Homo sapiens: one gene and its partners. The protein of the gene in region 2 purifies or fractionates together with the protein of the main gene of each other region. This does not show direct contact. Each region holds a gene or a part of one and is shown on either strand. Other genes may lie near its edges. The genes, in order: CEP78, ZNF324B, TRIM71 and RPF1.

Region 1 (7,027 bases), on a different chromosome or scaffold from region 2:
CAGAGTCAAGGCTAGCCTACTAGATCTTGCCTAATATTTTGCACTGAATGTAAGAAAAATGTATTACAGACCATTCTCGTCAGATATTCTTCACTGAACCTTCTTTATCTCTTGCATCTAGTGGGTCTAGGTTGTAGATTTTAACCTCCTACATATTGCTTGTCCATCCTTAATTACATTTTGCCTGGACTATTGCAGACGCTCCTAGCTAGTTTTGCTGCCGTTGAGCTTGGTTTTTCTCAGTTCATCTGCCTACTTTGGTTCAAGTGATCTTTCAAAAAGGAAAAGACATGCTTAAAGTGGCATGCCCACGCAGGACCAGTGTGTATTGGTTGCTTGTGTTCTGCACAGAGGCACTGAAATCTCAGCTGTGTTCTGTTAAGCCTCCTGGGGTTAGTTGGTCTTGAGGAAGGGGAGCTTTTTCTCATTTCCTTTATCTCTTTGATACTCCAACAGTGAGGCACATTTTTCTAACCTGCTAGGGGTATCCTTAATGTGTCAGTGGTAGCCCTGATCCTCATCACCTGTGAGGTAAAAGTGAACTCTCCTAGGCTTGCTTCTCCCTGCCTCTTTGTAAATTTCTGACTCTTCCGGCTACGGCTCTGGGCTTTAGTCGGATCCACCTGCAGTTTTCCAGTGCCCGGCAGGTGTCAGGCTTAGATGCCTTTGCTCTCGCTGCTCCCTCTGGTTAATGCATCACCCACTCTCACCCCATGTTGTCATTCTCATCTTTCTAGATTCAGCTTCAGGATTATCTTGAAGCCATCCTTTCAGTGCAACTTCTTTGCTTCCATAAGAACCTCTATGTACATAGTTTGGTATATCCCATGTGGCTTGAGTTTACATGTGTCTGTGCTTAAGAGGACTTTAAAGGACATGGCTCATTTCTATGTCTTAGCACAGAGCAGATGTTTTTGAATGATACATTGTATGATTGAAGTCACTAACTTTCTTTTATCTTTGTTTTAGGTTCTGACATGAATAAATTTTGCAGAAGTCGTGTTCCTGCGATAAGATACAAAGATGTGACCTTCCAGTTGTGTAAAGCTCTTAAAGGCTGTTTAAGTATATCAAGTGTGCTAAAGAACCTGGAGCTAAATGGACTAATTCTGAGAGAGAGGGATTTAACTATTCTAGCAAAGGTAAGCTTTGTCTCATTTGGCTTGTAGACATTTGATAGTTGCTTTTAGAGGAAAAAAAACCTCAATAACATTTTTAACTTTTCCCCCTCATTAAAGGGATTGAATAAATCGGCTTCTTTGGTGCACCTGTCTCTTGCAAATTGTCCAATTGGAGATGGAGGTTTAGAAAGTGAGTTTAAATCTCATTTAACTCTTGTCCTATCAGGCTGGTTTCATGTTTCCCTACATGCCATGTTAATTCCTGTCTGTACCTTTTTTCTTACTACTGCCTCATATGCTTGTTCAAACCTTGGTCCAGTCTCAAGTCTACCATGAAAGCTTGGCATGCTGAATGTAATCTGAACTAACTTTACTTAAGTTTGTGTTAAACCACAGACCACACAAATATATACCATCTGGTATTCTCTGTTTTTTGTGTTTGTTCATCTTTTAGAGTTTTTCTTCAAGAAATATTTATGGGAAGGAAATAGCAAAATGTAAAGAGGCCGGGCGTGGTGGCTCACGCCTGTGATCCCAGCAATTTGGGAGGCCGACGTGGGCGGATCATGAGGTCAGGAGATTGAGACTGTCCTGGCTAACATGGTGAAACCCCATCTCTACTAAAAAAATACAAAAAAACTCACCAGGCATGGTGGCGGGTGCCTATAGTCCCAGCCACTCAGGAGGCTGAGGCAGGAGAATGGTGTGAACCTGGGAGGCAGAGGTTGCAGTGAGCCAAGATCACACCACTGCACTCTAGCCTGGGCGATAGAGCAAGACTCCGTCTCAAAAAAAAAAAAATCATCATTACTTTAAATAATTAAAACATATATACAATCAATTTTAATGCACTGTGGTATGTTCCAAAATAGGAAATATAAGCAAAGTGCTGTATAGGAGCATATAAAAGGCTGACAGACTTGGGGGGAAAGGGTTGGGATCATGGAAATAGTCACAGAAGGTGACTGTTCGTTGGGATCCTGAAGTCTTGTGTTCGTTGTGTGAAATAGTGGTCTGGAGGGGTAAGGAAACCTGCATTTCAATTTGAGGGAGCAGAGAGTTAAAAGGCCTCTGTCTTCTATTGTTCTAGTACATTAGGTGCTCTAGTATAACACCTAATAAAATTCTGGGTTTATAGTTGACACTGAATTGTTGGTTAATAACAGATTGAGGTCTGCTCTTGGAAATGAAAATAGGAAGAGTTTTATTTTTTTTATGTTTTTCTTTCAGATGTCTCAAAAAGTATATAGAACTTTACTGTGGTCTGGAGTAAGGTTGCAATATTCAGTCTATTCAATTTTGGCATCTAAATAGAATTGAACTATTGCAATAAACTGGAGTAACTCTTTGTTACTGACTTATTTTAGAATGTACCAATCAGTTGCTTAGGTAGATTGTAAATAGTGATTTTAAGAATACAACTATAAAATAGAAAAGATATAAGAAGAGCAAATAAATCAAGACTGACTAGGTTGTATATGCTCTTCATCTTATTGTATGTGGTTTTTTTTTCCATTTTAGTTATTTGTCAAGGTATAAAGAGCTCTATCACTCTTAAGACAGTCAACTTCACAGGATGTAATCTGACATGGCAGGGAGCAGATCACATGGCCAAGATCTTAAAGGTAACTTTATGTTCCAACTTTCATGAAAATGTGTTATATGATTGCCACACGTTAATATTTTGATACAAGACAGCAGTTATTTTTGTCTTTTGATACATATGGGCATTGCAGTTTTAGTTTTGTTTAAAGAATGTGACCAATTTTCAGCCTGGGGTTCTACCATTTATTAAAGGTAGTATGCTTAATCTTAGAAATAGAAGACCTAAAATATAATAATTAGATTTTTCTGTAAATACAGTTTGTAAAACAGTAATTTTAAAGGTGCCTTAACAACTTTATAGTGGTTATTACTACTGTATTTAGGATAAAATTACATAATAATGTGACATGAAGCCTTTTTAGTAATTTGATGGTGTAGATCGGGGTAGTCAAACTATGGCCTGTGGACCAAATCTAGCCTATCACCTATTTTTGTAAATAAAGTTTTGAAACATAGTCATGCCCATTTGTTTACATATTAACTATTGCTACACCCTACACTAGGAGAGTTGAGTAGTTGCAAAAGAAACTATATGACCCACAAAGCTGAAAATGTTTATTTTGGGGCCTTTACAGCGTAAGCCCACTCTCCGTGGGATAGATAATGGTTACTCATGTGGATTCTGAAGCCAGATGGCCTAGGCTAAAACCCGAGCTCTCTCCCATTTAATAACTTGTGACCATGGGCAAATTAGTTAACCGCTCTGTTCCTCAGTTTTCTTATCCATAAAATGTGTATAATAAGAAAACCTACTGTGTCTGTCATTGTTAGGATTTAATGAACTAATGTGTATAAAATAGTGCCTGGCTATCTAAGTGTTTGCTGTTATTTCCTCTTATTGCTTTTATACAGTTATTATGAATAGCAAATGACACTGACAGTTTTCATTTGACGGAGTCATAGGAGCTTTGAATCTTTTGTTTCAGAATGTAATGAGATTTTTTTTTCTCTTAAAATCAGTGTTTCCTGTTACCGAAATTTACTTTATGGATAAAGAGAAGTGATTATGTCTGTAAGATAATACCTGTGGTTAAAACTCAAACCACCAATTTCCGAAGGCATATCAACCTTGCTTTGTATATTCTAGGCCTCTAAATTTGGTGTGCATACCCTAAGAAATATGTGAGATCCCTTGGGTTAGGAGAAGAAAATATTAACCTCTATATTTTTGTATCATTTAAAAAATACCTATTGTTTCTGTTTGATTTGTAATATACATAAAATATGTATATAGAAATTCCTGTATATAGTTTATTAATAAATAACTTACATGTTAAATGTTTACTTGTGGGATGTCCAGTCAAGTGTTTAGAGACCACTGGAGGACAGAATGATATGATTTAGAGGCTCAGCAATGATAGAATTTAGAACCAGTACCTTCACTTGGCATATAAAGAAAATAAAATTCTTAGAAGTTAACTAAGTTGTCAGTTTACATAAAGCAATCAGTAACAGGTCATTAGTGGTTAGGGTCACATAGCTAGTCAGTGACAGACTAGTATCTGGGTCACTGGACTCCTTACTCAAAATCTACTATTTAATCAGTCTGTCAGATTAACCCACCTGGCATATGTACCTGGTGTGTGTGTAAAGCTCTGATGTAATCAGCTGTACTTAGTTCCTTTTAGTGTTCCTATCTCTTTATCCAAGTGTATTAATTTCATCTTATTAAATCTTTGAAGTATCAGACCATGAGAAGGCATGAAGAAACCTGGGCTGAGAGTCTTCGCTATAGGAGACCTGATCTTGACTGTATGGCTGGCTTAAGACGTATCACACTGAATTGCAACACACTTATTGGTGACCTAGGTGCATGTGCTTTTGCAGACTCTCTCAGTGAGGATTTATGGCTGAGAGGTAAGTTAAATGAACTTGTAAGGTGGAAAATATTGAATTTTTTGATATTAAATATGCTTAACTCTTGGCACAGTAATGTTGTCCGAAGGTTTTTTAAAAAGCCTCTTTTTTCTAATAGGTTTTATTTTGTTTTTAAGCCTTTATAAAAGTTATATATATTCTTTATAGAAAATACCAAGTAACAAAAAAAAAAAAAGTACATATAATCTCAATGCCTAGAGATAAACTGTTCATTTTGGTGTATACACTTTCAGTATTGTTTTTTCCTGCAGATACATTTGTGTGCTTAGAGTTACAAGAACAGAACTATAGTGCACTTACCATTTTGTAACCCTGCTTTTTTTATTTAATGATGTATCATGTAGTACTCTATTATATTGAGGCATAATAGTTTAATTCCCTACTATTTGATATTTAGGCAGTTTGTGCTTTTCCCCTGTTATAAACAACTCTGTAGTAAACTCCTTATGTATACATCTCTGTGTCCATTGAAGTTACTTTTTTTTTTTTTTTTTTTTTTTGAGACAGGGTCTTTCTCTGTTGCCCAGGCTGGAGTGCAATGGTGTAATCATACCGCGCTGTAGCCTTAAACTCCTGGCTCAAGTATCCTCCCACTATACCCTCCGAGTAGCTGGCACTACAGGTGCACACCACCATGCCAGGCTAATTTTTGTGGAGACAGGGTCTTGCTGTGTTGCCCAGGCTAGTTTCAAACTCCTGGGCCCAAACAGTTCTCTTGCCTTGGCCTCCCAAAGTGCTGGGATTCCAGGCATGAGCCACTGTGCCCAGCCTGAAGTTACTCCTGTAGGATAAATTACTAAAGTTGAGTAACTCAGTATAATGTATTTCTTAAAGACTTTTGATGCATGTCACCAAATTGCCTTTCAGAAATGCTGTGCCATATTATAGTCTCATAAATGCTGGATTGTGTCTATTTTAAAACCTTAAACTTTACAAAAATGAGAACTCCCCTGCTTTTTCTTTTTTGATGCAAATGGGATTGGTCTCTGAATTTTACAGCTTTTTTCACTCAGTCTAGCATATCTTAAATCAGTAAGTTTACATTTACCATGTCATTTTTAGTGACTCTTCAGGGTTCCATTATGTTAATATGCAATAGTACACTTGGCTTATCCGTTCCTATTAGATATATAAGCTATTTCCAGTTTTTCATTGTTATAAACAGTACTTTGATACGTGTTGTTGCCCGTGTCTCTTATAATTTCCTTCTGGTAAATTCTTAGAAGGAGAGTTGCTGTGTTAACAGAGTCTGCACATTTTAAAGGTTTTTTTAAAATGTGACCTTCGCCAATCTGATAGAAGCATAATCACATTTAATTGTTTTAGTTTATATTCATTTGATTTACTAGTGAGATTTACTGGCTATTTTTATTAATTTGGCTAGGTGGATAATTACATCCTATGCTCATTCTTCTGCAGCAAGAGTTTGTAAAGGTTTTACCATATTCTATCAGATCCATATATCTGACTTATTTCTGTGTGTCTTGTGGTGTCTTAGTCAGTTAGGGCTTCATAGAATATTCTATATTATATATAGTATATATTATATAACTCCATTATAGAAGCATATAACAGAATTATATTCTGGGTGGCTTAAAGAGAAGACATTCATTTCTCACAGTTCTGGAGTCCGAGAAGCCCAAGATCCAGATGCCAGTAGATAGGTGTCAGGTGAGGGCATTCTCCCTAGCTTATGGAAGGCTTTTATATCCTTAAATGGTGGCGAGAGAGAACTCTAGTCTCTTTTTTTTCTTGTAAGGACACTAATCCCATGATGGCTCCACTCTCAAGACCTCAACTAAACCTAATTACCTCTCAAAGGCCCCAATTCCTAATACTACTACCCTGTTGTGGATTAGGGTTTCAATATACATTTTTGGGGAATACAGACATGTAGTCCATAAAATGAGATTCTGAAAGACTTCAGTTATTTTAATGTAATGGTATACACGTGCTTTTGCTCTGATGTAATCTTTTTTTATGCCTGTACTTTTGTGATAATCCTTTTGAGTTGAAATGAGTAGATTGTTCAGCCTCAGTATTACTAGTATTCATGAGCATTTGTTTAGTTCTTTGACCTTTTACTTGAGAGAGAGTTCTTGACCATTATTTTTTCATGATAGGTTTTTAGTATATAATCTCTATAATCTCTATTCACACATTCTTTGGATTCATTATTTCTATCTCCTTAGAGTTCTTTCTTTGTCATTTTTATTCTAAAACTAACAGTTTACATTTTTGTATTTTCTTTTCACTTTTTTAATGTAATTTTTTGAGAGTCACTTGGAATTTGAATTTGAATTTGATGATGAATCTAGTGCAATTTCTGAGCTCCACCCAGTTTTTGCCTGTGATGTTTACACTGCCACTAGCATCCTTGTTAATTATGAACAAATATTCATTCTGTGATGTTTTATGTAGAG
Region 2 (6,954 bases):
AGAAACATGGTGAAACCTCGTTTCTACAAAAAAAGTAAATAAAATTAGCCAGGTGATATGGTTTGGCTGTGTCCCCACCCAAATCTCATCTTGAATTGTAACTCTCATAATTCCCACACGTTGTGGGAGGGACCCAGTGGGAGATAAGTGAGTCATGGGGGCAGTTTCCCCACACTGTTCTCGTGGTAGTGAATAAGTCTCAAGAGACCTGATGGTTTTATAAGGGGTTTCCTCTTTTGCTTGGCTCTCATTTGCTCTTACCTGCCACCATGTAAGACAGGGCTTTCACCTTCTGCCATGATTGTGAGGCCTCCCAGCCACATGGAACTGTGAGTCCATTAAACCTCTTTGTCTTCATAAATTACCCAGTCTCAAGTATGTCCTTATCAGCAATGTGAAAACAGATGAATATAGTAAATTGGTAGAGTGGGGTACTGCTATAAAGATACCCGAAAATGTGGAGGCAACTTTGGAATTGGGTAACAGGCAGAGGTTGGAACAGTTTGGAAGCCTCAGAAGGAGATAGGAAAATGTGGGAATGTTTGGAACTTCCTAGAGACTTGTTGAATGGCTTTGACCAAAATGCTGATAATGATATGGGCAATGAACTCCAGGCTGAGGTAGTCTCAAATGGAGATGAAGTTGTTGGGAACTGGAGTAAAGGTGATGCTTGCTATGTTTTAGCAAAGAGACTGGTGGCATTTTGCCCCTGCTGTAGAGATTTGTGGAACTTTGGATTTGAGGGAGATGACTTAAAGTATCTGGTCCGGGTGCAGTGGCTCACGCCTGTAATCCCAGCACTTTGGGAGGCTGAGGCAGGTGGATCATGAGGTCAGGAGATCAAGACCATCCTGGCTAACATGGTGAAACCCCGTCTCTACTAAAAAAATACAAAGAAATTAGCCTGGCATGATGGCGGGTGCCTGTAGTCCCAGCTACTCAGGAGGCTGAGGCAGGAGACTGGCATGAACCTAGGAGGCGGAGCTTGCAGTGAGCCAAGATTGCAACACTGCCCTGCAGCCTGGGTGACAGAGCAAGACTCCATCTCAAAAAAAATAAAAATAAAAATAAAGTATCTGGTGGAAGAAATTTCTAAGCAGCAAAGCATTCAAGAGGTGACTTTGATATTATTAAAAGCATTCAGTTTTAAAAGGGAAATACAGCATAAAAGTTCAGAAAATTTGCAGCCTGACCATGCAACAGAAAAGAAAAACACATTTTCTGTGGAGAAATTCAAGAAATTTGCATAAGTAACCAGGAGTCAAATGTTAATCGCCCGGACAATGGGGAAAATATCTCCAGGACATGTCAGAGACCTTTGTGGCAGCCCTTCCCATCACAGGCCCAGAGGCCTAGGAGGAAAAAATGGTTTCGTGGGCTCCCCCTGCTGTGTGCAGCCTACAGACTTGGTGCCCTGCATCCCAGCTGCTTGAACTATGGCTAAAAGGAGCCAAGGTACAGCTTAGGCTGTGGCTTCAGAGGGTGCAAGCCTCAAGCCTTGGCAGCTCCCATGTGGTGTTGAGCCTGTGGGTGCACAGAACTCAAGAACTGAGGTTTGGGAACCTCCACCTAGATTTCAGAAGATGTATGGAAATGCCCAGATTTGGAGCAGGCAAAAGTTTGCTGCAGGGGCAGGGCCCTCATGGAGAACCTCTGGTAGGGCAGTGCTGAAGGGAAATGTGGGGTTGAAGACCCCACACTGAGTCCCCACTGGGGTACTGCCTAGTGGAGCTGTGAGAAGGGGGCCACCATCCTCCAGACTCCAGAATGGTAGATACAACCAACAGCTTGGACCACGCACCCGGAAAAGTCACAGACACTCAACACCAGCCCATGAAAGCAGCTGGGAGGGAGGCTGTACCCTGCAAAGCCACAGAGCTGCAGCTGCCCAAGACCATGGGAACCCACTGCTTGTATCAGTGTGACCTGGATGTGAGACATGGAGTCAGAGGAGATTATTTTGGAACTTTAAGATTCGACTGTCCTGCTGCATTTCAGACTTTCGTGGGGCCTTTAGCCCCTTTCTTTTGGCCAATTTCTCCCATTTGGAATGGGTGTATTTATCCAACGGCTGTACCCCAATTGTATCTAGGAAGTGACTAACTTGCTTTTGATTTTACAGGCTCATAGGAAGAAGGGAATTGCCTTGTCTCAGATGAGATTTTGGACTGTGGACTTTTGAGCTAATGCTGAAATAAGTAGACTTTGGGGGACTGTTGGGAAGGCACGATTGGTTCTGAAATGTGAGCACGAGATTTGGGAGGGGCGAGGAACAGAATGATATGGTTTGGCTGTGTCCCCAACCAAATCTCATTTTGAATTGTAGCTTTCATAATTCCCACATGTTGTGGAAGGGGCCCCAGTTAGAGGTAACTGAGTCATGGGGACAGTTTCCCCCATACTATTCTTGTGGTAGTGAGTAAGTCTCACGAGATCTGATGGTTTCATAAGGGGTTTCCTCTTTTGCTTGACTCTCATTTGCTCTTGCCTGCTGCCATGTAAGACGTGCCTTTCACCTTCTGTCATGATTGTGAGGCCTCTCCAGCCACGTGGAACTATGAGTCCACTAAACCTCTTTTTCTTTATAAATTACCCAGTCTCAGATATGTCTTTATCAGCAACGTGAAAACAGACTAATACACCAGGCATCGTGGCTCCTGCCTGTAGTTCCAGCTACTTGGGAGGCTGAAGTTGGAGGACTGTTTGAGCATGGGAGGCGGAGGTTGCAGTGACCCGAGTATGCACCACTGCACTCCATCCTGGGTAAGAGAGTGAGACCCTGTCTCAAAAAAAAAAAAAAAAAAGTAAAAAAAAATTGCTTGAAATGTTAATAATGCCTCTAAGCATTTGATTAAATCACAATAGTACTTAAGTGTTCTTAAATTCTTTCAAAGCAGGAAAAATTTAAATAAAAACATTCAAAAATTGTCGAGCTATCTTACACTATAGGGATCTACAAGTAGAATCAATTCTGTGGACAGTTATAGCTGACAGTAGACAGATATTTATAGATGGAGGTGGGTATAGAGGAAGACAAAATGAATTAACGTACTTGACATCTGAGAACTGTCTAAGGATCCTAAAAACAAGACCCTCACAGGGAAGCAACAAAGAGAGAATCGTTTATTCTCTGCCAACAACATGGTCAGTCTACATTGAGACTGCCCTGCCTTTTGTTGTTATGTGTCAAAGACACTTAGATTGGTCCAGAGAAAAAAGGAACAAAGCATCCATGTTGTGATGTGTGGGGCAAAGCAAGAACTAGATGGTCTAAGGACAAGCAAGGCTGGGGAATTACCTTCTGCTCGTCCAAGTTACAAGGAAAACAAGTTTTGGGCGAGCGTCCAAGAACAATCACAGAATCAAGACAAATGACAAGCGGGTAGTGTCATTACAGGCTGAGAATTCTTGGTGTAGAGGTTGAAAAACGGACCTTAAACCTTTACGGGACACTGACACACAGAGAGATCAAACCCTCGCCCAGGATGCACAGTCAGTGAGATGCAAAGCTGGGAAGGGAACCCGGAGCTCCAGGCATCTGCTCCTCCACCTACACCTGCCCTACCCGGTGCGTTTTCTCCTCCCTGCTACCTGCTGGTGTTGCCTTCTGGAACCTCCGCAGTTTCTGCTTTCACACCTGCAGGGTTTAGTCTCCAGGGCTGCTTAGGTGGGTGCCAGGAACTGGGAATCCCCAACGCGGGACAACCTGCCGGGCGACTCAACCAGTGCCACGGAGCCCTTGGAAACCCGCGGCAGCTGCGCTACTCCATTTCCAGGCGCCCAGCGCGGCGGCGCTTAGCCGTTGCCATGGAGACTGGTAATGGCCCCGCCTCCGCGCCGAAAAACAGGCAGGAACCACATAACCCAGAAGGCTGTGCGCAAGCGTCTGCGCGCGTATTGGGGCAATGTGAGCTCTGGGGGCTGGACTTCCGGCGTTGGGACTGTCACTTGGCTGCTCGCGTCAGGCCACACCGGTGGTCTGGGCTGTGGCGCGCGGGTCGGGGCCCGAGGCGGGCGGCCAGGAAGGTACGGACCACGAGCAGCCGGCCGCGCCCCCAAGCCTCGGTATCTTCGAGTATGACGTGGTCGGCCCGGGGGCGGTCGGGCCCCGGCGGGAACCACGCGTTCTCCCGCCCCGCGGAAGCCCAGGAGGCAGCGCATTGGGCATTCTGCGCCCATGACTGCCGGGCAGGCTGAGGCGCGGGGCAGCCGCGGGAGGCTGCTGGCGGGGATGGCGGTCCCGGGTGGTCCATGCCTTTCTTCCCTCCCAGTTGCGGGTTCCGCTGGCGGCGGTGGCGCTGACAAGCCCGCGCCGGGGGGGCGGGGGAGTCCCTGCTCACACAGACTGCGCCCCCACGGAGTGAGGCCGCTTCCTAGACCTCGCCTAGTCGTCTTTCCTCTCCCTGCCCTGGGGGGGTTGCGGGGGTCAGTGCAAACTCCTGCGTCCAGGGCACTGGTGAGCTCCCGACTTCCGGCAGCCAGGGGGCTGAGGTCCCGAAGGAGGCTCCGAGGGGAGAGTCCTGCGTGTGCAAAACCTGGGAGGGGAGCCGAAGCCCAGATGCTTCTGGGACTGAGCGCTCTCGATGTGGAGCTGGAGTAGAGGGGATGTGTGCGGCTGCAGTAGCAGGCGAGGGAGTGGGCTTTATCTCGAGGGCGTCGGGAGACATAGAAGTTTTGAACAGAATCAGGACATCCTCTGAGTTGGGACTTTAAAACGGTTCCACCGTTTGTTGCGTGGAGAACAGACATGCAGGGGTGTCGGCATGAAGGGAAGAACCGACTGCCACAGTCTGGGCAGCAGTGGAGGTGGGCGACCAGGTGAATTCTGGTGGATCTGCGGATGCATCAGGTGTGGGCTGTTTGAAGAACTAAGTACCCCATGTTGTTCAGCCTGAGCGCCTGGAAGAAGAGAGCTGCTGTAGATAGAAAGGAGAATTGAAAGGAAAGCAGGTTTCCTTCAGGGGAAAGATCAAGAGTCTGGGATGTCCCAGGTTGGTCATGTCACTGGACCTGACGTTGTTGGTGTCCTGGGCTGAGGACAGGGCCTATAAACTGGACTGAAGAAGGCGATGAGCAGTCAGGCGTGCGGAGTTACAGCTTGAGGGTAAAGAAAACCGGCTGGGGTGCCTGAGGCTATCAGGGGAGGAGTTCGGCAGGTGGCTGAATAGGAGAGGGTGGCAGCAATGTGGGAAAGAAATTGCGGGAGCGCTGAGATCGAGACCATCCTGGCTCACACAGTGAAACCCGGTCTCTACTAAAAATCCAAAAAAATTAGCCAGGTGTGGTGGCGGGAGGCTGAGGCAGGAGAATGGCGTGAACCCGGGAGCCGGAGCTTGCAGTGAGCCGAGATTGCCCCACTGCACTCCAGCCTGGGTGACGGAGTGAGACTCCGTCTCCAAAATAAAAATAAATAAATAAATAAATAAATAAATAAATAAATAAATAAATAAATTGAGGAGGGGGCGCCATGTGGAGGGAGGAAGGGATTGAGTTCCCCTGTGTTCACAGGTTCTTGGGGCTGCACCCCTATGACGACTGGTGGGGATCATCCAGTCCCTCAGGCTGGATGAGCAGCCTGGAAATGTCAGGCAAGCGCAGCAGGGGAAGGTCTCAGTGATGGGCATGCCTGGGGGGTCCACAGCTGGGACTTACACCCTTGCTTATTACAAAAGCAAGAAGGGCACATCTGGGGAGGGTCATGAATGGTCATGCTGAGTCACGAGTGGATATTTGGGGCTGCCCTTGGTGTGGCAGCTAAGGGCCCAGCCAGGGCTTGCTCTAGCCTGCTTGTGTAGGGGTGGCCAGTGGGGAAGTCAAGAAGCCATCTGGGGCCTGGACCAGGAGGGCAGAGGGGAGGGGTCCCAGACAGGTGAGGGAAGTGCCACCTGAAGATAATCTCGGGGTGGAACCCAAGGAAGGAGGGACACTGGGGGAGGTGACTGTTGGGATGGGGAGCTTGGTCCTGGCTCACAGCCATACCTTAGACCATGCCTACCTCCACCTCCCTGCTGTTTTAGGACCTGATGACCTTCGAGGATGTGGCCGTGTACTTCTCCCAGGAGGAGTGGGGGCTCCTGGACACAGCGCAGAGGGCCCTGTACCGCCACGTGATGCTGGAAAACTTCACACTTGTGACCTCACTTGGTAAGGCCCTGGGTGCTCCATGAAAAGTGCACTTGGTGACAATCAGGACTGCCTCTTCACTTCCCTCCTGGTTGATGAGCAGGATCAAATCTGGCCAGGGCCACGTGGAACAAGGGTCTGGTCCTGTAGACACAAAGTTTGGTTGGGTCAGCCACTCCTTGCCGCCCTGTCCAGCTGTGGCCTCTCTCATGCCTGGGCTCAGTCCCGTTGCTTTGGTGCTCTGGGCACAGTTGCTGCTCTGGGGACACATGAGCTATTCCTATGAGCCCCTTGCCCTGTGCTATCTTTAGATTCTCCCAGTTGCACAGATTACTGTCTATTTCCATGAAGCCCTGACTCCTGCTCTCTGTTGGGAGGTGGGTTGTCTTGACCTGGGGCTGGGCTCTCACCTGCTCCTCCTCACAGGACTCTCTACCTCCCGACCTCGTGTGGTCATTCAACTTGAGCGTGGCGAGGAGCCCTGGGTTCCCAGTGGAAAGGACATGACCCTGGCCAGGAACACCTACGGGAGGCTCAACTCTGGTGAGTGGGAGCTCAGGTGGGGTGAACTAAGGACCAACCTGTGGCCAAGCCCATGTCCCTGCTTTTCTGACTCTGGAAACACATCCTCCTCTCCTGCCTCCTACCTGACTCCCTTCTCTTCCATCATCAGCCTCTCCTGGAGGCTGCTGCCTTAGTAGGTGCCCTTGAAGGGAGAGCTCCAAGGGCACAGGAGCTGGGTTCACACAGAAGGGCCTACCTTCAGCTGGGCTGTGTGGCCTTGAACCCTCCACAACTAGCAGCCATTATTGATAGGTATTTATTTCGCCC
Region 3 (7,027 bases), on a different chromosome or scaffold from region 2:
AAACTTAAGTGCAGATTTTTTATACAACAGCATTTTAATAATTATCCCAATTAGTCCCAAAAGAGTATGAAACGACTTCCCCAAATCCACTGGCATTTCAAGAAAAACATTTTAACTGCAAAAGGTTAAGACGAGAAGAAAATGGCTGGCCAAACTTTCCAGAAGTAACAGCTACAGGATGCAGCAGCCAACAGATGTTTACAAAGGCTCTCATTCTCAGAGGCGCCTGACCTGATTGACCACTCAGGCTCCAAGGTCCATTCAAGGGCCCCTGGAATTCACAGGGTGTCAGAACCAGGAGGGTATGTCCTCAGTCTACACAACTGATCTGCACCCACTTTATTCTTTTTTGTGCCCACTGCTCTGCTTTAAAACCTATTAATGTTGACAAAATGTGCTATTCTGCAGAAGCTCTTATAGATAAATGATCACAATCAAGAATTATCCCCCCTTGCAAGGCGCGGTGGCTCACGCCTGTAATCCCAGCACTTTGGGAGGCTGAGGCGGCAGATCACCTGAGGTCAGGAGTTCGAGACCAGCCTGGCCAATATGGCAAAACCCCATCTCTACTAAAAATACAAAATTAGTCAGGCATGGTGGTGCATGCCTGTGATCCCAGCTACTCGTGAGACGAGGCAGGAGAATCGCTTGAACCCAGGAGGCAGAAGGTACAAGGAGCCGAGATCACACCATTACACTCCAGCCTAGGCAACAGAGTGAGACTCCACCCAAAAAAAAAAAAAAGAATTATCCCCCTACCCTTCATGACAAAGGACCTCATTCCCAATAATCACAACTTCAATATGCTAACATAATTACTGAAAACAGTATTTTTATTGCTAAAGACTACTACTTCTATGTGGAAAATTGTTTTTGAGTGAAATACAACTGACTGCTAATTTTTTGTGCCAACTGATAATTTATAGCTTCACTAAAAACAAACTCATAGCCCGGGCGCGGTGGCTCATGCCTGTTAATACCAGCACTTTGGGAGGCCGAGGCGGGTGGATCATGAGGTCAGGAGATCAAGACCATCCTGGCTAACACAGTGAAACCCCGTCTCTACTAAAAATACAAAAACAATTAGCCGGGCATGGTGGCAGGCACCTGTAGTCCCAGCTACTGGGAAGGCTGAGGCAGGAGGATGGCGTGAACCCAGGAGGCAGAGCTTGCAGTGAGCTGAGTTCGCACCACTGCACTCCAGCCTCAGGGACAGGACAGAGCAAGACTCCGTCTCAAAAAAACAAACAAAACACAAAACTCACCTGACCGGGTGTGGTGGCTCACACCTGTAATCCCAGCACTTTGGGAGGCCAAGGTGGGTGGACCATTTGAGGTCAGGAGTTTGAGACCAGCCTGACCAACATGGTGCCACTACACTCCAGCCTGGGTGACAGAGCTCCCTCTCAAAAAAAAAAAAAAAAAAAAAAGAACTCACCTGATGGGAATTAAAGTTCTGGTTAGGAACCATCTAGGATTAGTAGAAAATCTACAGTAAGGATGACAAAAAAAACTATTAGCCTAAGTCTAATATGAGTATCTCTAAAACTCAGGTTTGGATGGGAGTTTGTTTGTGAGACATAGTCTTGTTCTATCGCCCAGACTGGAGTGCAATAGCATGATCCTGGCCCACTGCAACCTCCGCCTCCCACGCTCAAGTGATTCTCCTGCCTCAGCCTCAGTAGCTGGGATTCGTCCGGCTAATTTTTGTATTTTGAGTAGAGATGGGGTTTCACCATGTTGGTAGGCTGGTCTCGAACTCTGGGCCTTATGTGATCTGCCCACGTCAGCCTCCCAAAGTGCTGGGATTGCAGGCGTAAGCCACCGCACCCTGCCTGGATGGGAGTTGAGTGGGATCTTCCCCCATTTCATTTCATTCTACCACCTTCAAAGCCAGTTGTAAGCAAACTGCATTTATCTACAGCATGAGGAAGGCAAGAGATGGCATGGGAGAGGCAAAGATTTACTTTGGAATATCGTTTAAGTCAAACAGTTTCAAATGTAAAGGGACACCACTAGGCCCCCTACTCCTCCCACTTTTTAGGTTGACAAGTCAGAGTCTTGTCAATCAAAACAGTCAATCTGGTTTCAGTCAACTCAGTTTGTGAGTATAGACAAAACCTCAAAAGGAGGGGAATAATTTAGTATTGAACAAGCAGGAGGTCACATCAGCTTTAGAGGAAAGATGGATCAAGCTTACTCTTGCAAGCCACAATGCTTGAAAGGTCAAGAAGAAAAGCGGTAACGGAGTAGGCTTCAATGGGTGGCATCTTGCTCCCTTAAGGCAACTGTAATTCTTTATCATTATCTTTCTCTTGCTCGCTTCCAAAATGTCAGAGATAGCAAAAACAGCCTTAGTGAGCCAGGCCTTTAACCTTTATTAGTTTTATGGGTGGGAGTGGGAGAAGGGGGGAAGCAGTATTTTGAAACTGCCTGCATAGTATAGAATTCATCTCACCCTTTTGCCTGTCAAAAATGACACTGAAATGGTCCTTTATTTGCTAAGAATGAACACAGACAAAATAAACCTTGCCCTGTGTAGAGAACTGGATGGAGAAATGGCAAACCATGTGACTTTTAGCACCAGAAATAACTCAGAGGGGGTTAAATTTTAGAGCTACAGAATTATTTAATGAAAATTTCTCTTGAACCAGAAAAATTTATAAACACGTTTTACCCTGGCAAACCACTTAAAAAAAAGCGTTTTAGCCATTTAACTTCATTGACAGCTTCCACAAGAGCTAACTCCCTTACTATATATGCACGATTATTAGTTCCTTTTTTCAGTGAAAAGACATAAAGCCCAATTATGCTCATAATTTTACATGTGAGGAGAAAGTTGCATCCATATTAAGTAGTACTTGAGGAAACTAGACATTTAAGCCTCCTGAGATCCTTCTAGAAAAGGACTACCTAAGGGCCAGGCACAGTGGCTCACACCTGAATCCCAGCACTTTGGGAGGTCGAGTTAGGCAGATCACCTTGAGGTCAGGAGCTCAAGACCAGCCTGGCCAACATGGTGAAACACCGTCTCCACTAAAAATACAAAAATTAGCCAGGCATGGTGGCACATGACTGTAGTCCCAGCTACTTGGGAGGCTGAGGCTGAAGAATTGCTTGAACCAGGGAGGCGGAGGTTGCAGTGAGCCAAGATCGCGCCACTGAACTCCAGCCTGGGTGACACAGCGAGACTCCATCTCAAGAAAAAAAGAAAAGAAAAGGACTATCTAGCCCAGCGAGGTGGCTCATGACTGAAATCCCAGCATTTTGGGAGGCCTAGGTAGGCAGGTCGCTTGACCTTGGGAGTTTGAGACCAGCCTGGGCAACATGGCGAAACGCCATCTCCACAAAAATTACAAAAATTAGCCAGGTGTGATGGCTAGAGCCTGTAGTCCCAGCTACTTGAGAGACACAGGCAGGAGGATCTCTTAAGCCTGAGAAGTCAAGGCTTTAAGGAGCTGTACAACTGCACTCCAGCCTGGGATGAGTGAGACTCAGCCTTAAGAAAAGGACTAGGGCCAGGCGCGGTGGCTCTTGCCTGTAATCAATCCCAGCCCTTTGGGAAGCCGAGGCAGGTGGATCACCTGAGGTCAGGAGTTAGAGACAAGCCTGGCCAATATGGTGAAACCCCGTCTCTACTTAAAAAAAAAAAAAAGAAAGAAAAAAAATTAGCCGGACAAGGTGACGAGCGCCTGTAATCCCCGTTACTTGGGAGGCTGAGGCAGGAGAATCACTTGAACCCGTGAGGTGGAGGTTGTAGTGAGCCAAGACTGCACCACCGCACTCCAGCCTGGATAACAAGAGTGAAACTCCATCTCAGAAAAAAACAAAAGGACTAAATAAAAGTATTAAGTAAGTAGCTATAATACAATGGGAGGGAGAACTAGATGGGAAATGGCAATTTTTACCTAATCTTCAAACACTTTTTTTTTTCTTTTTTTGAGACAAGTCTCACTGTTGCCCAGGTTGGAGTGCAGCGGCACGATCTCGGATCACTGCGGCCTCCGCCTCCCCAGTTCAAGCAATGCTCCTGCCTCAGCCTCCTGGGTAGCTGGGACTACAGGCACGCGCCACCACGCCTGGCTAATTTTTGTTGTATTTTTAGTAGAGACAGGGTTTCACCATGTTGGCCAGGATGGTCTCGATCTCTTGACCTCGTGATCCGCCCGCCTCGGCCTCCCAAAGGCGCGGTGGCTCACGCCTGACCCTCTTCAAACACTTTTAGGAAGATTTCCCTGTATCTTTTTAGATAGTCTCGCTCCGTCACCCAGGCTGGAGTGCAATGGCATGATCTCGGCTCACTGCACCCTCGGCTCACTGCAACCTCCGCCTCCTGGGTTTCCCCATTTCAAGTACAACTATTTCACTTTGAAAACAATGTCAATGATAAAGAACAAATACCGTTGTCAAATGAAGAACTGGAAGTCTAGAAAAAGTAACGTTTTTTTCCCCAAATATCTTGTCTTCCAAAATGTATATTCCTAGAATTGGAAATAAAAATCTTGTATCAAATCTATGCAATCCCCAAACCACTAAAACCACTATAGTTTATCTTTGTAAAGGAAGGAAACTGAACAAATAATCACAAAAGGTTTCCCAGACAGTGCTGATACCACAACAGCCTCCATACTACTAGCACAGTTTATGACAGGTTATGCCTTCAAGGCAACCTCATCAGCACAGGCTTGCCAAACTAGCTGTGGCCCACTTCCTGAGGGTCCATGTTGAAAAATCCATTCCTATGCACTTTAATGGAACTACCTTAAGCCCACAAAGGCTAAGCAATTAACATATCAATAACGAACATTTCCCTCCCATATATTTTTATCAAGCATTTTCTGAATTCAGTAGGCTTCCTAATGTCTACCTGCTGAACTGGATTCAAAGCAGCAACCTCTGTAATTATTTTCAAGGCAGTTAGGTTTGGTTTTCCAGCCAGTAGGTGAGATGTCTGCACTCAGAGGACATATTCACCCAGTAGTGTAGAGCAGGTTGAAAGCAGGTAACAGAAATACTAGAATACCCATTTCTGTTCACTTTCTCTCCTTGTCCTTCCTTTAAAAAAATTTTTTTTAAAAATTTGTTGAAATTAATATGAATCAATCGGATTCCAATTAAAATGCCAATTTCTTGTAGAAATTCTCAAAGTTTATCATAAATTTCACCAACTTAGTTACATCTGATCGCCTCTAAAGACGGAAAAGATAGGAAAGTGGTTCTTTAGCTATACCTACATTTCACACCCTTAAAAAGAGAATTACTTCGACATGCAGTGTAAGTGGGAAAATTTGTATTATGCTTTTAAAAATATTTTGGTATGGATTTTATAATTTATGCAAGAACATGAATATAATTTAAAATAAGCATGCATACACTGAGTATATGCAGACCTGAAAAAACTTAGACTTTGGGAACAGAGAATAATATACACTGGTGCTGAATACAGGTACAGTCCCATTTACAATATGACTTAAAATATACAAAACAAATTCACACAGCAACCGATTATTTTAGGCAGCAAACCTCCTTGTTCCAAGTGACTGAAGCCACTTTAAGTTTCCTGCCAGGAGACAGTCCCAGGAGTGCTCAATGTTCAGGGTCAAATCAAGTTGGAATTCTAGAACTTTTCTCTTCAGGAGGCATTTTAAAGCCCAACACAGGGACCGCATGGATTCTACCAACACCTGCACCCCTTTTTCCAACCAGACTCCAGAAAACGCCACCCCCAGACCTGCCTAACTGGGAACAATATTGCCATCCTCGGGTGGGGCGGGCTACAATGTTTTCCAGGTGGCAACAATGTCACCCCCACTGCCCCTCACCGCTAGTGACAGAGGCTTTCCTGGGTTCAAACCCTGCTCAACTTCCCGCCATTCACAGAATCCTGACGCCCAGCTTAGGCACACAACACACCCAGCATTTCTGCTGCCGGTGTCGCCTCCAAGGCTGCAAAGGGCTCACGTTCTATGTGCCAAAAGCAAAACAACACTAAAGGGTCACTTGTGAGCAGCTGGAGCAGCGCTCACAACTCCCTAGTTGTGAAACTCTTCCCCCAAAACTCAAGCGAAGACCCTACTCCATGACCAGAGCGGCCGTGAATACCCCAGCGGGTGCCTGCGGGGAGAAGAGCAGCCGCCGGCCAGGCCACGTCCCCAGAGCCGAGGCAGGCTCCGGGCTGGCCGGGCGGCGGCGCAGGCCCGCGGCGACTCTACCTGCGCCCGCCTCTCCCGGGACCCGCGGCACGCAGCGGGCCCGCGGCCAGCTGTTCCGGGGACGGCGACCTCGGATTCCTCGCCTTGGATTCCCCGCCCGGATGCCGGCTGGGCCACGGAGCCTGCAGGCCTTTCGGACTCTGGAGGCACAGAACTAGTGAAAAGCCCCAACTATGTTGTTGAAATAAGCCAAAATAAAAGAGTAGCAGCAAGTACGTCTCATTATTTCGTTGGAAAACCCAAAGATTTCCAGGTTATCATCATTACGGTTTAAAGCCAATTGCTCAGACGAGACACCTTACTTGCCAATCCTAAGAAGGCATTTTACAAGGGGATGCTTAAGGAAGAAAGTCCCCCTGGGCGAGAGACCCTGCAGGCTGGGGTAGGGTGTTTGGGCCTCCTTCCCAAGGTCAGGTGGCCTGAGTCACTATAAGGAAAAGGTGCTACTCTGAATTATTTAACGGAGCCTGTGGACAAGGGAAGCAACTCAGTTAAGGAGCTCATCTTAAAAATTGAGGTAGACAGTATACACATTAAAATATGTGGATTTAGGCATTCAGTGTATCGCAGTCCAGATATGGGTCAGTCTATCATCCTCCAAAAATGTCCTAAAGCTCCTTCCCAGCCAGAGAGGGATGACTTTTTAAAGGAACAATATTCTCAAACTGTTAACGAGATCAAAAGAAAAGGAATTATTTAAGCTGTAGGTGGAACCGTTTATGAACCTCACTACCTGTTAGTGCTGTCTCTCCTAACACTTTAGTCTTCTACTCAGAACACTGGTTTGTCACCTTTAATCTCAAATTTCTAGCGTT
Region 4 (6,847 bases), on a different chromosome or scaffold from region 2:
ACCAAGAAATGGTGTAAATGAATTGCTAAGAAGTAGAACACAGAATTGTAAGAGTACATTAAAACTAATTCAAAATATATGTACACTAGCAGAGCTATGAAGAAAATACAAACTGAAACTAGCATTTATTACTCTATGAAACAAATATTACATTTTAAGCATTTTTTAAAGGAGGCAATTTTAAGAAGTTATCTTTCATCTCAAAAAACAAGAATGGTGGTGTTTTCAAATGGTGATCATAACATTAATTTGCTGTAATAGACTGATTACAAAAGAATTAAAAAGAGACTAACATGCTTGACATACTAGGATACTGCAGGTCAAAACAGTCTACTATTGACAATTTTCTATGGTTTAACCTAATACTATTCAAAGAATGTATGAAATAGTAGAGTGTTTAGTTTGTATACTGTCTTTACATTTTTTTCCCTTCCTCAAACACCCTTATTTGGTAACTTACTTGAATGGGAGGCGGAGACATGAATGTTTTCAAAATTTTGCAAAAATAAATCACAACCTAGGAGTAACTATAAATACACTGAAAATAAAAATAACTTAGCTATGCAATAATGTATGAGCATTTAGTAGTTTAAAAAATTTTTTCAATAAAGATTTCACTTCTTATGAGTACCACAAATACAGCCAAATTCTTTCTTGATGCATTATCTGCTCTTTTCTCTGCCATAATCCTCACCGTCCTCCCACTCCCCATTCTCACTTTTCACAGGTTCATATCCTCTGTACCAGCTCTAAAGCTTAACACACCCTTATCACCCTACTCCAGAAGAGGATCTGTCCTGCCTTTCCCCAGCCTTGCCTGACCAAAAATCTTTGCTTCACATGACAAGAGCCAAGCTCCAGGCCTAACCTGGGGGAGCTTCCCCATTCCCAAAGTCAGGGAGAGGTGTTGACCTCTGAAACACAAAGTTATATGCAAAATACCACCACTGTGTTACCGTATAGGTACACAAACATACACAGTAAAGGTAAAAGAAGTGCATGGAAAAAATAATCAAAAATTTCACGAGTGGTTATCTTCGGAGGGAAAAGCAATTATGAAGCAGACGAGGGGCTTCCAACATTCTTTGCTAATGCATTATTTCTTAAGCTGGGTAAATGATACAAAGAGGTTTATTATATTACTTTTGTATTTCTTCATACATCTGAAATACGTAATAATAAATTTTAAAAGAAAGTAATTCAACTTAAATATCAGGAGGGATTCCCTAATATAAGATAGAAAGCAAACAGCTAAAAATTTTATTTACCTTATCGCCAAGAGCCTCTCTTTCTTTTTTAAGTTTTTTCTTAGCTGCCAACTTTTCCTAAAGGGTTAAAAAAAAAGAGAACAATACTGAGAAACAACCAGTTATATCACAAACACATACTGAAACTACAAATTACTAATGCTATGAATACTCGAACTGGGCGGTCTTTGTAATCTATTGAAATAAGCATCTGGACGTGGAGTTTTCTACCTAAATTACTGTAAGCCAAATGAGCTGGCCAATCAATAAGATTTCTTTAACAAAGACCTGCTCCTTTAAAAAAATCTAAACTGGCAAGTTTGAACATTTAAAATTTGAGTAGCTTAACCTTTTTCCATAAAGCCTCAAATTAATTAAAGTATGTGATGGTTTCCACTGTGTTTTGTTTTGCCTAACTGGTGGCATCCTAAAGACGACCATGGTTATGCTGCTTGCTTCTCTTGAAAAGCACTAAAAATAGGAATGGGAGCTGAGTTTTCAGGTTGTTTTCCATAAAACCATCACCAGTTATTCACATATTTTATAATCAAAATATACTTCTAAAATTTAGTAAGAGCTTGCAAGGTGGCTTAAGATTATCTGTATTTGTATTGTCAATCTATATATTCTTCTGGAGATTTCTAGATAGAATGCTTGACAAAATAAAAAATATTCTTTTTTCCCCAGCACCTACTGATCCTCAATCCACCAGGTTTCAGATTAGAAATCATAGCTCCAATAAGTCTTCCAGGACATCCCTCCCCAATACGTGCATACCAGAATGAGTTAAACGCCCCTTGTATGTATTGAAACAGCACCTTGACACTGAACATGAGTAAGAACCAGTCCCGGGCCTCAGAAGGGCCAGTAAGAGGAGGCAGACACATAATAATAATATTGTGTGAACTTCTACGATGTGCAAGAATAAGCAAACGTTTTCTTCCAATTGCAATTTAACCAGAAATGAGCACTGCGACCTTGACAAGTCGTTTAAACCTCTTTACGTTTCAGTTTGTTTACCTACCAGAAACGTATAAGGATAAAGCTGAAAAGAACAAATACAATTACCAGAAACTTTACAGTACTAATTTCGGTAAGGAGCTCCTGCAGGAATCAGAGAAGCAGTATTTTGGATTTATTACGTATTGCCTCCATTTCAGATTCTGCAAATTAACCAACGCTACCTAGACGGACCAAAGGGCTGAGACTTTTGCCTTCTGGGCCAGGAGGGCGTAGTTTTCACTACTAAGCCAACTGGCCTTACAGCTTTCCTTGTGAATCTAGCGTCCCAGGAAAGAGCCTATCAAGATAATCTTCCACCTTGACGCTCAGGCAAAAGGCTGAACCTAGAGTCTCCAAACTAGGGCGAGGGGACCAGAACACGTGGGCCGCGACGCCACCCTTCCCACGGAGCCACAGAGAACACTTTTGAGACCAGCAGACAACCACAGATGTGCGCCCCGCGACCGCCCTAAGCGTCAGGAACAACGCGCAAGCGCCCGGCAGCCCCCGCCTCTCGCGTACCTTCCGCTGCTGCTGTTTCCACCGCGTGAACATTAAGTGTCGCCGCTGTTTGTTTTTAATCTCCGAAATGCTAAAGCCTGGCGGAAAGGCAGCCGCTTTCGGGGGTTGGACCCCGTTTTCCGTCGCCCCATCCCCAGCGCCTGCAGCCTCCTGAAGTTCTTCGGCAGCGGCTTTCCGTTTTAGACTTTTCTTCCCGCTGCTGCTGCTCTTATCCCCGGCTTTCGCCATGGTCTTGGCTCCTTTGCTTCCGTACGGAAACGGAAATAGCCTTCTCCTGTGACCCCCTTCCTTAACCTTTTACTTCCGGGGTCGCAAAGTTTTTGACGCTAGATGTGTTTTGTGAGTTTTAGCCATTCAAGAAAATAGTAAAGCTGAGGCTTGAGGAAACTTTAGGCAGTTTGCCCAGCTGTATAAAGAGTGAGATGATGAGTTTGGGCACTCCTTGCGCATCTATGTGCCCAGCCCTCAAAATAATGGAACAACAACAAAAACCGTGCCTGGATTAGTTTACGTTTTACTTGAGGGAAACCTAAAATGAGCATACAAATAAATTATGGTGAGCTACAGAGTAAGACATGGTATGGAAAAAAAATAGAACAGGATAAAAGAAGATGAAGAGACATTCATCTTTTTGAGACGGAGCCTTGCTTTAATGCCCAGGCTGGAGTGCAGTGGCACGATCTCCGATCACTGCAAACTCCTCCTCCTGAGTAGCTGGGACTACAAACACGTGCCACCATGCCCGGCTAATTTTTGTATTTTTGCAGAGATGGAGTTTCACCATGTTGGCCAGGCTGGTCTTGTACTCTTGATTTCAGGTGATCTGTCCGCCCTGGACTCCCAAAGTACGTTGCAATTTTAAATAGGATTCTCAGAGTAGGCTTCATTGAAAACGTTACATTGAGCCAAGGTTTGAAGGAGGTAATGGGCTAAACTAGTTATCTGAGGGAAGAGCTGTTAATCTGAGAAAAGCTGGTTATCAAGGAGAAAAGCTGTCCTGGCAAAGCAAACAGCCAGCTCCAATGCTCCTAGTCAGTAGCAAGCCAGGAAAGGCAAGAAGTGTTGAGATTGGACAGGTGGTGTAGAGTTTTGTAAGGACTTTGGCTTTTATTTTATGTGAGATGAAGATCTCTTATAGAATTTTGAGGAAAAGAATGGTATGATCTTAACATCTTAAAAGTATCAGGCTGGTGCAGTGGCCCATGCCTGTAATTTTAGCACTTTGGGAGGCCAAGGCAGGAGGATTGCTTGAGCCTGGGAGTTCAAGACCAGCTTTGGCAACACTGTGAGACCCCATGTCTACAAAAAGTAAAAAAATATATATATCTGTTTGGGCATGGTGTACATCTGTGGTCCCAGCTACTCAGGAGGCTGAGGCAGTAGGATCCATTGAGCCTGGAAGGCTAGGTTGCAATGAGCCATGTTGGTGCCACTGCATTCCAGCCTGGGTGAGAGGGTGAGACCCTCTCAAAAAAATAAATAAAAATAAAGTAAAAGCGTCATTCAGAATCTTCTTTTGAGAAGAGCCTATGCAGGGGCAGGGTGTGTGGAAGAAGGGAAGAAATGATAGTGGCCTGAACCAGGGTAAGTCTTGTGTAGGTGGTTGAGAAGTGATTCCTCTGGAAGGTAAAGTTACTGATGGAACTGAAGGGAGGACATGAAAGAGTCAAGGATGACTCCAAGACTTTCGACCTGAGTGATTCAAAGGATGGAGTTACCATCAGGTGAAATGCGGGAAAGTTCAGATGGAACAAATCTGAGAGGTAAGATCAAGATTTCAGTTTTGGAAATGTTAAGTTTGAGATACTTTTTAGTGATCTGATTGGTGGTGTCAACTAGTCAGTTGGGATGTATGATTCTGCAGCAGGACAGAGAGGTGTGGGCTAAAGATCAAACTTTGGAAGTAATTGGCACATAGGTAGTATTTCAAACCATTAGAATGAGTGTAGATAGAAAACTGAAAAAAGAAGATCAAGGACTGAACCCTGGAGGAGTCCTGCATGAAGAGATGGAAAGAAAAGGAGGACCCAGCAAAGGAGAAGGAGAAGAGAAAATCAAGAGAGTAGAATGTCATGGAAGGCAAGTGAAGAAAGTGTTTTCCTAGTGGTTAAATTTGCTGTATTCTTCATTCTAATTTTATGAAAATGCTTTCCAAATAGCAACAAGAAATCCCTTTTGATTTACTGTTAGGAGTCAGTTTTCCAGAATCTGCCTTAATTTCAAATTTTATGTACCAATATCTATATTTCGTGTTTTGAGAATCCAATATGTTTTTGTCCACATTTCATTTTTCACCCATTCAAATTCTATTTAACAACAGCAGGATATTAAAAGCATCAAAACTGTGTCTTCCAGAACACAAGCTCCATCCAAACCTGCTATTAGATCACAAATTGAAAATTGTTGTTAAAAAACTTAAAATCATTATGTTTAGATCCAAAATTGGATTTAAGTTATATAATACAAAAAAAGGAAAAAAATAGCATTGAGTTTTAAAATCACTGACATATAGATTTGGCTGCAGTAAATCATAAAATTTATCTGGACATGGTGGCTCATGCCTGTAATCCCAGCACTTTGGGAGGCTGAGGTGGGTGGATCACTTGAGGTCAGGAGTTCGAGACCAGCCTGGCCAACATGGTGAAACCCCATCTCTACTAAAAATAGAAAAATTCGCTGGATGTGGTGACAGTTGCCTGTAATCCCAACTACTCAGGAGGCTGAGACAGGAGAATTGCTTGAACCTGGGAGGCGGAGGTTGCAGTGAGCTGAGATGGTGCCATTGTACTCCAGCCTGGGTGACAGAGTGAGACTCCATCTCAAAAAACAAAACAAAACAAAAAAAACCCCAAAACCATAAAATTTCATATATAGTTTATTTAAAGGGGGGTAATCAAGTCAAAAAGGAAGAGTAGTCCTGGGGCTGTGGCTCATGCCTGTAATCCCAACACTTTGATAGGCCAAGGTGGGAGAATAGCTTAAGCCCAGGAATTCAAGGTTGCAGTGAGCTGTGATTGCATCACTGCACTCCAGCCTGGGTGACAGAAGGACCCTGTCTTAAAAATAAATAAATAAATAAATAAATAAATAAATAAATAAATAAAAGAACAAGAGGAGGGGGAGAAGAAGAAGAAGGGGAATAAGTAAATCTCCATCCTGGAAATACAGACTGAGAAAATATTTTGAAAGTCTCTTCTAACTGTAACGTTTTATCTCCCTACATATAATATTTCCTTTTCTCATAAGAATACAAAATAGTTTTGAAATAGATTTAGATAACAGTGTTAAATTTATTTAGAAGCACCATACAAATGAGATCATTAACTCCTTAACTTAGACTTCCTTTTTTTTTCTTCATGCCGTATTTATAATAACAATTGTATGAGTTGAATGAAAGGATTTCTATAATCAGAATAAGTCCTTATTCTTAAGTCACAAAAACATTGATTAATTCAACAAATATGTATTAAATGCTACTCTGTAAATGAATAGGGTGGGTTGTGTTCAGATCTTGGCTCAATCACTTAGATGCTATAAAATCTCAGTTAAATCATAAAATGTCTGTGGGTCTCAATTTGTCTGTAAACTGGGGCTAATTATACTGCCACATAGGATGTATAGAGAGGAGTAAAGATGTATATTAAAGAACCAGACACACTCAATAAATGCTAGCTAGCTATTTTTACCATTTATTGGTGTCAGAGACTGTTCTAACTAGTGTGGAAGAAAAAGGCATCATGTTTGCCATTAAGTAGTGTACAATTTTAGAAGAAGATGAAACACAAGAATAGAGGTCACTGTAGAGTGCTTTACGAGGTTCATTTCAGCCGTTCACTTTCTCTCACCAATTCTTTCATTGCCCATTATTTTCCAGGCCCACTTCCAATAGAGTATATGTTATTTTAAAATAAAGCACTTACTTTTAATACTTAATACAATTTTTGCCTATTTGTTTTGATTCTGACATTTGGGGCACGCTGGAATACAACTCTTAGGCACCAGGTGAGTTCAGTGATCCAAATCAAGATTCTCTTCAGAAAATTTGACCTATTATTTTACAGTATGACTTAAGCTTT

What was found.
Region 1: the proteins of ZNF324B (region 2) and CEP78 purify together in Homo sapiens (affinity purification with mass spectrometry; 2 studies listed by BioGRID and IntAct, with this or other methods). This does not show direct contact.
Region 3: the proteins of ZNF324B (region 2) and TRIM71 purify together in Homo sapiens (affinity purification with mass spectrometry; 2 studies listed by BioGRID and IntAct, with this or other methods). This does not show direct contact.
Region 4: the proteins of ZNF324B (region 2) and RPF1 purify together in Homo sapiens (affinity purification with mass spectrometry; 2 studies listed by BioGRID and IntAct, with this or other methods). This does not show direct contact.

The regions. Positions count from the first base shown.
Region 1 is NC_000009.12:78,239,054-78,246,080, forward strand, and holds part of CEP78 (centrosomal protein of 78 kDa), read left to right. Parts: intron 1-969; coding exon 970-1,142; intron 1,143-1,238; coding exon 1,239-1,311; intron 1,312-2,642; coding exon 2,643-2,746; intron 2,747-4,408; coding exon 4,409-4,583; intron 4,584-7,027. UniProt on the Homo sapiens protein: Centriole wall protein that localizes to mature centrioles and regulates centriole and cilia biogenesis. Involved in centrosome duplication: required for efficient PLK4 centrosomal localization and PLK4-induced overduplication of centrioles.
Region 2 is NC_000019.10:58,447,679-58,454,632, forward strand, and holds the start of ZNF324B (zinc finger protein 324B), read left to right. Parts: upstream 1-3,943; 5' UTR 3,944-4,026; exon of another isoform or gene 4,027-4,075; intron 4,076-4,117; exon of another isoform or gene 4,118-5,104; intron 5,105-5,508; exon of another isoform or gene 5,509-5,588; intron 5,589-6,017; coding exon of another isoform or gene 6,018-6,023; coding exon 6,024-6,144; intron 6,145-6,549; coding exon 6,550-6,666; intron 6,667-6,954. UniProt on the Homo sapiens protein: May be involved in transcriptional regulation.
Region 3 is NC_000003.12:32,820,986-32,828,012, reverse strand, and holds part of TRIM71 (E3 ubiquitin-protein ligase TRIM71), read right to left. Parts: intron 1-7,027.
Region 4 is NC_000001.11:84,475,434-84,482,280, reverse strand, and holds the start of RPF1 (ribosome production factor 1), read right to left. Parts: upstream 3,016-6,847; 5' UTR 3,000-3,015; coding exon 2,772-2,999; intron 1,326-2,771; coding exon 1,269-1,325; intron 1-1,268.